3 linked regions of the Homo sapiens genome follow. The protein of the gene in region 1 purifies or fractionates together with the protein of each later gene. This does not show direct contact. Each region holds a gene or a part of one and is shown in the gene's direction. Other genes may lie near its edges. The genes, in order: MPG, PKM and EXOSC9.

Evidence for each region.
Region 2: the proteins of MPG (region 1) and PKM purify together in Homo sapiens (affinity purification with mass spectrometry, with the first as the bait; one study listed by BioGRID). This does not show direct contact.
Region 3: the proteins of MPG (region 1) and EXOSC9 purify together in Homo sapiens (affinity purification with mass spectrometry, with the first as the bait; one study listed by BioGRID). This does not show direct contact.

What each region holds. Positions count from the first base shown.
Region 1 is NC_000016.10:76,689-80,437, forward strand, and holds the start of MPG (DNA-3-methyladenine glycosylase), read left to right. Parts: upstream 1-1,536; 5' UTR 1,537-1,621; coding exon 1,622-1,645; intron 1,646-2,450; exon of another isoform or gene 2,451-2,604; coding exon of another isoform or gene 2,605-2,643; intron 2,644-2,736; coding exon 2,737-3,012; intron 3,013-3,749. UniProt on the Homo sapiens protein: Hydrolysis of the deoxyribose N-glycosidic bond to excise 3-methyladenine, and 7-methylguanine from the damaged DNA polymer formed by alkylation lesions.
Region 2 is NC_000015.10:72,217,558-72,221,206, reverse strand, and holds part of PKM (pyruvate kinase PKM), read left to right. Parts: coding exon of another isoform or gene 1-39; intron 40-2,096; coding exon of another isoform or gene 2,097-2,109; coding exon 2,110-2,263; intron 2,264-3,649. UniProt on the Homo sapiens protein: Catalyzes the final rate-limiting step of glycolysis by mediating the transfer of a phosphoryl group from phosphoenolpyruvate (PEP) to ADP, generating ATP.
Region 3 is NC_000004.12:121,804,323-121,807,971, forward strand, and holds part of EXOSC9 (exosome complex component RRP45), read left to right. Parts: intron 1-299; coding exon 300-437; intron 438-3,217; coding exon 3,218-3,300; intron 3,301-3,649. UniProt on the Homo sapiens protein: Non-catalytic component of the RNA exosome complex which has 3'->5' exoribonuclease activity and participates in a multitude of cellular RNA processing and degradation events.

The sequences.
Region 1 (3,749 bases):
CTAGACTGAGGGGGAGCACTCGGGGGGATGGGGGGCTGTTCCCACAGGAAGGAGAGACTCATTGTTTGGGAGGCATGGCTGCAGATAAGCAGGGAGGGTGTGGAATCACATCCAGGGCTGCTTTATAAACACGGATTGATGACACATTATGCCCCCACCCCGGGAAGCGGCACACAGTGCTACAAACAGCTGGTGGCTTCCAGCCGGCTGATGGCCCCTCCCTCCCCAGGAAGTCCTGGCTGGGGCCCATGGGGGTGGGACGGCTGGTCAGAGGAGGAGAGGCAGTTGGAGACCAGGTCCTGCCCTGTTAGCCTTTCTGTAGGACCAGGTGTCACACTCATCTGAGGGCTCCAGACACATGGCCTGTGCGTCTGTCCTGCCCAGCGTCTCCCACCTGACGCGGCCAGGTGCCCAGTTGCTCTTCAAGGCCTTTTCAGGTGCTCCTTTCCAGGACCAGGGTCACAGAAGTCAAAGCTCAGGAAAAGCCCCTCGAGGGTTTTTGTGCGGCAGAGGTGGGTTGTGGGGTGGGATTGTGCCTGCCACAGTGGAGGGGCCCTGCAGACCCAGATAAACCTTCAAGTGGCCAGAAGCGGGGGATGGCTCTGCTGGGTGCTGGGGCTGCCATGGGCCGTGGGAGCCAGCAGTGTGCCCAGCTCCCTCAGGGCCCGTCCCCTAGGCCCTTCCGTCCACTGGGCCAAGCACCGTCCCTGCCCCTCCCTAGGGGCATGGATCTGACTTGAGAGGTTGTGAGAGCTTACAGGCGCTGGGCCGTCGGGGAGGCCTCAGAAGCGTAGGACGGCTGCGCACTGCCGGGCCGTGTTCAGCCCTGGTCTGGCCTCGGCCTCTAGAGGAGGCTGCCTGCGCTCCAGCAGGCCCAACCCAGAACGTGGGCGAGCTCCCTTCAGCATCCCTGGGCGGAAAGAGGGATGGGGGCTCTGCTGCAGAGGCAGAATCCGCGCCGCTCCCTCCTTCCTTCCCCCGACCAGCCTGTGACAACCCCGGCCAGGGGCGGGGGCCTCCGCACAAGCCTGGCGTCCACTTCCTGGATAAGGACTCCCCGGCCCACTCCGGACCAGGGCTGGGGCGGCCTCCCAGGCGCTCACTCCGCTGGCACCCCACCGGAAAACACGTCTGCGGCCCGCCCCCTCCCCCAAAGCACGACCACTCCGCCCGGGCCCCTCGAGGATCCACTCAGGTTCACGACGGGCCCGTCCTCTCGGTGGTCTGACCACCGGCTGGTGGAGTGGGCTCTGGGGCCGCCAGGCGACCAGGGCGCAGGCGGGGGCGGACAGCTCATTGGGAGGGGCGCCGGGGCACAGTGCGGGGCTCGCCCCACCCCCAGGTGCCCCTTCCCCGCTCTCGCCTCGCAGGCACCGCATCGGGCCCGGGAATCGGTCCGGACCTGGCGGTGGGCGCTGGGAAGAGGATCCACCTCCACGTGGCCCGCCCCGCCCCGGGGGCGCAGCCAGTTCCCGGCGCTCACTGCCCCCCTTCTCCCGGCTTCCGTCCCCTTCTGCGCAGGCGCCGCTCCGCCCCGGTCCTAGGGGTGCTTCCGTGGTCGGCGGCTGCTGGGCTCCGCGCCGGGGTCCGAGTCCCACGAAGCCCCGGCCCGAGCCGCCGGATGCCCGCGCGCAGCGGGGCCCAGGTGAGCGCGCGCCTCGGCCGCCCCGCGGAACAGACGCGCCCACCCCCAGGCGCAGCAGCGAGCGCGGCCGCGGGAGCGGGAGTGCCGGGGACGGGCGTAGCGCCCACCGCCCCGAGGGTTCGGGGCAGAGCCAGAGCATAGGCCAAGGGCCAAGCTCGGGCCGAGAGCAGTGGCCGCAGCGCCCGGGGGCTGAACCCACGGCGCGCTGGCAGCGCGGGCCGAGCTGCGGAGACGGTCACGTCAGCGTCCGTTCCAGGCCGACTGGCAGTCTCCGTTCTACATTAACGTCAGCACTCCCGTTAAAAATAATGCATCTCTCCCATGCCAGGAGGACTTAGGTGCTGCTAAAGACCAGCCCTCCGGGTGCTGCCAGGCCGGCGCTCACCCGCCACCTTCATCTTCCCTTCTCCTTTGCCCCAGGACAGCCGAGGATGTGTGGTTAGGTTCCCCCTACCCATGGGGAGGCCAGAGGTGGGAGGCTGGCGGCCTGCTCGGTCTCAGCAGACCCTCCTAGTCCCTCAGGAGACCTTGCCTTTGCCCCACTTGCTCGTTATCCAGCCTGGGCCATGAAGCAGAGGACAGTTAGGGACCCTGAGCACGCGGTGGTCACCCCGGTGCTCACCCCTCCCTGTGTGTCCGACCTTGGCCCTGCTAAGATCCTGTGTTTTGAATTCTGGCAAGGGTTGGATGAAAGGGCAGGGCTCCAGAAACCAGCTCAGACGTTTGCTTGGGACCTGCATGATGAGTGGGAATCGGAGGGCACCAGCCCTGCTGTCCCAGGCTCAGGCCCCCATCTGCTCCCCAGGTCATGCAGCCTGGGCCCCCATGCCGTGCAGCTCGCACATATGTGGGGCAGAGCAGCCACCCTGCCCCCAGCAGCAGCCGTCCATCGTCAGACGTGATCATTTCCTGAGGCCTCGAGTGTGTCAGGGTGTTTGTGCCTCATAACAACCCACAGGATGGTCACCCCCGCTTTGCAGATGAAGAAACCAAAGCAGGTGGTCAGATCCAGTCCTTGCACTTCCTGAGCCTGACCTTACCACACAGCTGTCTCCTATTCGGATGCTTATTTATTTTTTTTCCCATTACAGTTTTGCCGACGGATGGGGCAAAAGAAGCAGCGACCAGCTAGAGCAGGGCAGCCACACAGCTCGTCCGACGCAGCCCAGGCACCTGCAGAGCAGCCACACAGCTCGTCCGATGCAGCCCAGGCACCTTGCCCCAGGGAGCGCTGCTTGGGACCGCCCACCACTCCGGGCCCATACCGCAGCATCTATTTCTCAAGCCCAAAGGGCCACCTTACCCGACTGGGGTTGGAGTTCTTCGACCAGCCGGCAGTCCCCCTGGCCCGGGCATTTCTGGGACAGGTAATGTGAACATAGCAGCGAGGGCCCTCCTGAAGTGCCTGTCACTGCAGTTGTCCCTGAACCCCTGTCCGCTGCCTGCTGGATTGGCCCTCAGTTAGTCCTCCTTGTCCTCATGCATTTAGCGGCTTTGCTCACACTGGTCCCTGCTTAGCTTCATCTCAGTTGCCTGAGGTCATCTGGGAAGAATGTAGAGATTGTCAGTGCTGCTTGCCCAGGGTGGAGCAGGGGTGCCACTGTCTGCCCCCGGCTCTGGGCATCTAGGGCAGGAGCACTTGCACCGTTAGCCTTCCTCACCGGCAATCCACCTCAGTTTTTCCACACGTGGGAACTGTGGCTGTGGCCAGTGTCGGGCTGCCCCTTCCCGCTGTAGTGGCTCACAGTGCAGTGCTGGCTTCCCAGGGCCCCTGCAGCTTAATGTAGGTCAAGGATCTGGGCTCTGCCAATCAGACTTGGAGTAAGAAGCAGGGACTGCCCAGGTCCCATCCTGGTGGGGCCTACGGTGCAGCCTGTCCCCACGAGCAGATGCTCACACAGCCGTGGCATCTTGGCTGGATCTGTTGGGAGCGAGGTGGTGGCGGTGGTCCTCGATGCCAAAGCCCCAGGCCTGCCTTTCTGGTTCTCCAGAGGCTCCAAGGCCTTCCCTTTGTCCTTTAATGAGCCTACTTTTAGGTTATAATCACCAAGAAGAACCAGAAGAGAAATACCAGTGCCAGGAGTTGGGTGCTAAAGGAGCAGAC
Region 2 (3,649 bases), on another chromosome or scaffold:
GCATTATGTCACCGGAAGCCCAACCCCAGAGAACCAAAGGTATGACCTGATATTCAGTGGCCCCAGCCAGGTCTTTACAGGAAGACCCTCATATCTCAGGTCTAAGAAGAGCCAGCTGATGGTTTTTAAAAAGAGTGGAATTAGTTACTCCAACCCACTTATTCAGATCTTATTTTGTTCACAATACAGTCCCTAGATTGTAGGCCCATTGGAGGCCACAGCAAAGCCTTTGTGTTCCAGTTGGCCTGATGTGCCATCTCTCAGTAATGTTCCCTTAACAGCCAGACTTCCCTAAGCCCAGCTGGGAGCTCTGAAGGTATGCGAGCCCTCCCTCAACCATGAGTGTAGGGAAAGGGACCAGGGGCCCCAGGCTTTCCTGTCAGTAATGCAGAAGTTCCTCAGATTTAGGGAAGGGGGAGCAGAGGCATAACTTTGATTCTGACAAAGAGGCATTCAGAGAGACTGAAAGGTCATTTAACAAACACTGGAATGCTTCCACATACTAGGTGCTAGGAGATACAAAACCATATAGGTCCTGGAAGGGAGGATTGATTTTTTCATTTTGGTACGTAGTAGATATTAGGGGCTTAGGAAATACACATCGAAATGAAGAGTGCATTTGCCATGTTGAACCGTTAGCCGGTATCTTATTTCCCCATTTTAAAAGTTTTAGAATCTGTGGTTGAGGACTTGTGGCCATCAGTTTTCCATAGCCAACAGACTGTTCACTACTGCCTTCAGAGCTCCTTGGACCTCAGCGGGCCTTCTTTGGAGATGGCAGAGATGGATTTAGATGTATACTCTACTCGAGCCACCCAGAGAGCCCACAAAGTCAGAGATGGAACAGGGTAAAGGAGTAAGGGTCATATGTGTGAGATGCCTTGATTTGGAACTTTGAGATTTAGGATGAGGTGGGGAAGGGCTAAAGAGGAGCTTGTTCCTGAGCCTTGCTTGGCCGAAGCATTTAGGCTCAAGCGTTTTAGAAAGAGTAGCCCTTGGTCTGAGAACTCAAGGAAACAGCTTTCTGATGAGACGTGTAGCAAGCTTCTGGTTCACATCCTTACCTGATAGTTCTTCAAACACTGCCTGGTCTGGTTCACATCCTTACCTGATAGTTATTCAAACACTGCCTGGAAGCTTCTCCTGAGTTTTTGTCTCTAATCAGCTAACTAACAGGCTGAGTGAGTTTAGTTGTAAGTCATTAATGAAGAAAGCAAAGGTTGGGGCCATTGTCAGGGTTGTGACCTGGGCTAGTTAATTACCTGGAACTGATGGTCTGTGTTACAGAGTGGTGGTATACTTGTCAGGCTTAGAAAAGAAATCAGGATGTGTATCAAAAATCATTTGGGGAAAAGATTTGACCAGCAACTTTAATTTCTCTATGTTTGCAACTATCCTGTTAATGTAGTTGTGATAATTTCAGAATTATACCAGTGCCCTTATGTTATCCTTGCTTTGCAAATTGCAAATTGCTTTGCGTGTCCTGACATCCTTCTGGCCAACAGTAGATGTGGTTTTAGGTTTAGACTCCTGGGATGGAAGCTTTTGCATTCAGGGGAATGACTTTGGGTTTGGGTGAGGATTGTAAAGAGGCAATATGGGTGCCCCACGACAAAGCAGCTATTTGTAGCTTTGTGACAGCTTGACATGCAGAGATCTAGGCTTATCAAGGCACTAAGCTAGGAGTCAGTTGTTTGTATCACTGGAAGATTGGTTACAACTTCCTTCATTGGAAGCTCCTTCAGTGCATGTTAAATGATGTTATTTATAGATAGGGTGGTGAGAAAGCTGTCTAGGTAGATGTCAGTCAGCCCAGTGTAAGAGAGACCTGCTTACTGTGGGTGCTTGGGACTATGTGGAGTGGGTGGGAGGTTTTAACTTGTTCAGTAAGGTCCTTTCCATTGTTCACAATCTGGTGAACCCTTTTTCTAACATGAGGAGCACCCACATAACCAGATCATGTCTGGCTTCCCTGTGGCTTGTGTACAAAGCGTGCTTATTGAGTTAATGTGTAAGCAGGAGACAGCCTTCTGTGCTAAATGGTATATTAACCACTTCTCAGTCTTACCACTCTCTTTCAATTTGTCTCGACCCAGGACCTCAGCAGCCATGTCGAAGCCCCATAGTGAAGCCGGGACTGCCTTCATTCAGACCCAGCAGCTGCACGCAGCCATGGCTGACACATTCCTGGAGCACATGTGCCGCCTGGACATTGATTCACCACCCATCACAGCCCGGAACACTGGCATCATCTGTACCATTGGTGAGTGGGTGTGCCCCTTCCCCCAAAAAAGGGCTTCATGGGCAGTGACCTTTCTCTCCTGAAAAGAGTAACTAAATGTCCTAACAAACCTAGGTGCTACATGGGATACTACACAGATTCTTATGAAAGGACTCAGGTCATAGGAAGTTGCAGTAAAGAATTAGTATGTGCATAGGATGGCAAATACAGTTAATAAGAGAGTATTAGACATTTCAAAATTGCTAAGATGGCGAGGTATGGTGGCTCCCAGCACTTTGGGAGGCCAACGTGGGAGGATTGCCTGAGCCTCGAAATTTGAGACCAGCCTGAGCAACTTAGACCCTGTCTCTCCAAAAAGTGAAAAAAAAAAAAAAAAAATTAGCTGGGCATGGTGGCATGCACCTGTAGTTCTGGCTACATGGGAGGCTGAGACAAAGATCACTTGAGTCCAGGAGATTGAAGTTGCAGTGAGCCATGATCACACCACTGCACTCCAGTCTAGGCAACAGAGCGAGATCCTGTCTTAAGAAAAAAAAATTGTCCGGGCGCAGTGGCACATGCCTGTAATCCAGCACTTCGGGAGGCTGAGGCAGGTGGATCACCTGAGGTCAGGAGTTCGAGACCAGCCTGGCCAACATGGTGAAATCCCATCTCTACTAAAAATACAAAAAAATTAGCCGGGGGTGGTGGCGGGTACCTATAATCCCAGCTACTTGGGAGGCTGAGGCAGGAGAATTGCTTGAACCTGGGAGGCGGAGGTTGCAGTGAGCTGAGATCTGACCATTGCACTCCAGCCTTGGCAACAAGAACGAAACTCTGCCTCAAAAAAAAAAGGAAGAAAAAAGAAAAAAACATCGCTAAGAGTAAATTTCAAATGTTCTCACCACAAAAATGTTAAGTATTTGAAGTCATGGATATGTTAACTAACCTGATTTAATTATTCCACATTGTATCCAAACTGTATGTATTGGATTACATAACTTTGTAACCCAAATTATAAATTACCAGTTTATAATAAAAAATAATTTGTTGCAAAAAGAATCCATATGGTTTAGGTTTTATGCTATAGGCAAAATTTAGAAGATGTTTTCCTTAGCAGGTCTTTGTAGGAGCAACTTAAAGACCTAGGAAAGATCTTTCTAACATGTTCTGTGCTACCAAGATTCTGTGGTTGGACATCTGGCTGGGTTTCAGTGAGGGTGGAGAAGGCTGGCCAAGTCTTAACCTAGGCTTTTCTGATACAGTGGGAGCCTGCAGAACTTGAAGGAAATGGTCGAAGTGTCCCAGTAGATCAAGAAAGTAAGCTGGCACGGTAGTAGCCTTCCATGCACTTTTTAAAGACTTTTGAGCTATTTGGGAGAGGAAAAGTTTTCAGGGAAAAAAATTCTTTAAACTTAAGCAAACTTA
Region 3 (3,649 bases), on another chromosome or scaffold:
TGGTTTTTAACAGACATGATAAAAATGTAATTAGATTTGAGGTTAGGAAAATCGTAGTATTAAATGTTAGAGTGGTTCTGTTTATTTAAAGTATGTGTTCTGTTGTTAAACGACCCACATAGTATTTCAGATGTTTGGCTTAAATTTTCTAAAATATATTTTTTGTTGACAAAGTACAAGGAGTAACTGCGTGTTTTAACAGCAAGAAAAAATAATTTGTACACAATGTTACTTTTCCTGATAAATAGCCACTGGTTGTAATCAGTTAGGATTTATTTTTATTTTAAATTCACTATCAGGTTTGGCAAATACGTGTAGACCTACATTTATTAAATCATGATGGAAATATTATTGATGCTGCCAGCATTGCTGCAATCGTGGCCTTATGTCATTTCCGAAGACCTGATGTCTCTGTCCAAGGAGATGAAGTAACACTGGTAAGCTCCTATGTGAACCAGGATCCTTGATATGAATGAATGAGGAGGGTCTTAAATGTGCAGGCAACTTGTTTTTAGTGAAGTTATGTTGTAGATGGCAATTGGGTCGTTTCTAAAAATTTGTTTGTAAGACTGAAACTGCATATGGTCAAAATTGCCCTGGAAATCTCTTAACCGTTCCTCTGTTGAAACATTTGTCAGTAAGAACATACCCTAGCCTGGTTTTCCAGAATAGAATTAGATGACTATTTTGGATTGAACATTAGATGAAGTGGTTGACTTATGTTTAGGGGCCATATGTGTGAAAAATACATGAATCTCAGCACAGTGAGATGCTTACCCTGCAAGAGGCATGCAATAGCTGAAAAGCACTGAGGAATCAGCAGGTTCATATTTGTCTCCAGGACTTTTGTTCATTAGGCAAAGAGATGACGAAAGTCCATCAGAAATACCTGGAGGGCTTGTTAAAACGTATAGCCAGACTACTCCCAAAGTAAAACAGGGCTAGGACTTAAGATTTTGTACTTCTAACTTTGAGTTCTTAGGTAATACTGATGTTGCTGGTCCAGGGAGCACATTTTGAAAACCATTGACCTACGTTGTCTTTATCTTTTGTTCTGAGTATGTCAGTTTTGATTTATATAAATTACATGCTAGAATAGTGAAAGTGCACTGTAGTTGTAGTTTGAATCCTGAAGTTGCAAAAGGACACATCAGATGCCCAGATTTTCTAAGCAATGATTCATAATTTTGATTTTGGGCAGTAGACTGAAGCAGAACCATTAAAAAGTGAGAAATAGGGACAAAGGTTTATTAACAGTAGAGGTAATATTCTTTTAGAGGAGGGAGTTTATATAAGGAAGTGAAAAAAAGTAGAAAGCGATTACTACACTTGAAAAATCAATTAAAGAATACTGTGGTGTTATTGCTAGTGGGAATGTAAAATGGTACAGCCATGTTGGAAAAGTTTGGTAGCTTAAGTTTTAAGTGTAGACAGCATTCTATATTCAGAAAAATAACAGTAGAAGAAAATATTCTTTTTTTTTTTTCTTTTTTTTTTTTTTGAGACAGGATCTCACTCCGTTGTCCAGGCTGGGGTGCAGTGGCGTGATCTCGGCTCACTGTAACCTCTGCCTCCTGGACTTAAGCAATCCTCCCACCTCAGTCTCCTGAGTAGTGGGGACTACAGGTATGTGCCACCCACTTGACTAATTTTTGTATTTTTTGTAGAGATATGGTTTCACCAAATTGCCCAGGCTGGTCTCGAACTCCTGGGCTCAAGTGATCCTCCCACCTTGGCCTCCCAAACTGTTGGGATTACAGGCATGAGCCACCATGCCCAGCTGAAAACACTCTCTTATATGTACATCTTTCAGCAGGTTTGACCTTGTAATTTTTTTTTTTTCTTTTGAGACAAAGTTTCACTGTTGTTGCCTAGGCTAGAGTACAATGGCGTGATCTCGGCTCACTGCAGCCTCCGCCTCCCGGATTCAAGCGATTCTCCTGCCTCAGCCTCCCAAGTAGCTGGGATTGCAGGCATGTGCAACCACGCCTGGCTAATTTTGTATTTTTAGTAGAGACAGGGTTTCTCCATGTTGGTCAGGCTGGTCTTGAACTCCCAACCTCGTCCACATCGGCCTTCCAAAGTGCTGGGATTACAGACGTGAGCCACTGCCCCCAGCCGACCTTATAATGTTAAAACAAACTGCAATGGCTTAAAATTAGAAAAAAAAAAAAAAATTCTAGCAATTCCATGCCTAAGAATCTACGGGAGGAATAAGAGCTTACTACGTTCAGAGACTTCAATGCAAGTGTTCATAGCATCATTTGTTAGCCAGAAACTGGAAACAATCCAAATGTCCAGCTGGTGAATAGATAAAATGTCATATATACAAATAATGGAATGCTGTTCAGTAATGAAAAGAACTGAACTACTGATAAATGCTGCAAGGTGCATGAAACATGCTAAGTTGAAAGAAGCCAGGCACAAAACATTACAACTTTTTTTTTTTCCATTTATATAGAATGCTCAGAAAGTCAGATTTATAGAGACAGAAATAAGATAGATCAGTGATTCCTTGGGGCTAGGGTGGGAGTACACCAGACTCCTACGGACTACAGACAGATTCAAAGGAATTTTGGGGAGTAATGGAAATGTTAAAAAACTAGATTGTGGTGATGGGTCCGTAAATGTATCCATAACTATACATTTACTAAAAATTGAATCATATACTTAAAATGAGTGGATTTTGGCTGGGCGTGGTGGCTCACACCTGTAATTCCAGCACTTTGGGAGGCCAAGGCAGGTGGATCACCTCAGGTTGGGAGTTCGAGACCAGCCTGACCAACATGGAGAAACCCCGTCTACTAAAAATACAAAATTAGCCGGGCGTGGTGGCACATGCCTGTAATCCCACCTACTTGGGAGGCTGACATAGGAGAATCGCATGAGCCCAGGAGGCGGAGGTTGCCGGGAGCTGACATCTTGCCATTGCACTCCAGCCTGGGCAACAAGAGTGAAACTTCATCTCCAAAAAAAAAAGTGGATTTTATGGGATGTAAATTATGTGTCAGTAAATTTTTGAAAAAGCTTTTTGAAAAAGTTGTACAGTTTGAGGAACGTGAGTGGCAAAATCAAACTGGTAATTAATTAAAAGAAGTTATTTAGGTACTCAAAAGAATAAAGGAACTTCATTTTTTAGTATTTGATGTGCAAGATGATTTTTTTGGATGTTCATAACTTAGTGACTATAATTATTAAACATTTTCTTTTGAAACAGTATACACCTGAAGAGCGTGATCCTGTACCATTAAGTATCCACCACATGCCCATTTGTGTCAGTTTTGCCTTTTTCCAGCAAGGGTAAGCCTCGCCTTATTATGGGCCAAAATTACAAATGCAGCTAGGAATTTTATTGCTCTACTCAAGTATGTCATGTTAATATTAAACAAACACTTCCCTTAATAGTAAAGCACCTTGTATTTCCTTTCTTTCTTTGTAAGGGCATTAGTTGGCAAAGAACTTTCTCAGTAGAAGTAACAAAACTCTTATACTTTGATGAAGATACTTCCCAACATTTTTCTTTTCATGGGATACTTATAAACTTAGGAATTTACTATGGCATGGTAGTGTTTTATGTTTCCTAAGGCTGTACAGTGGTTAAGAGAATTATATGCTAGGCTCTAATTTGGGACAGTGGGGTGAGAATTAC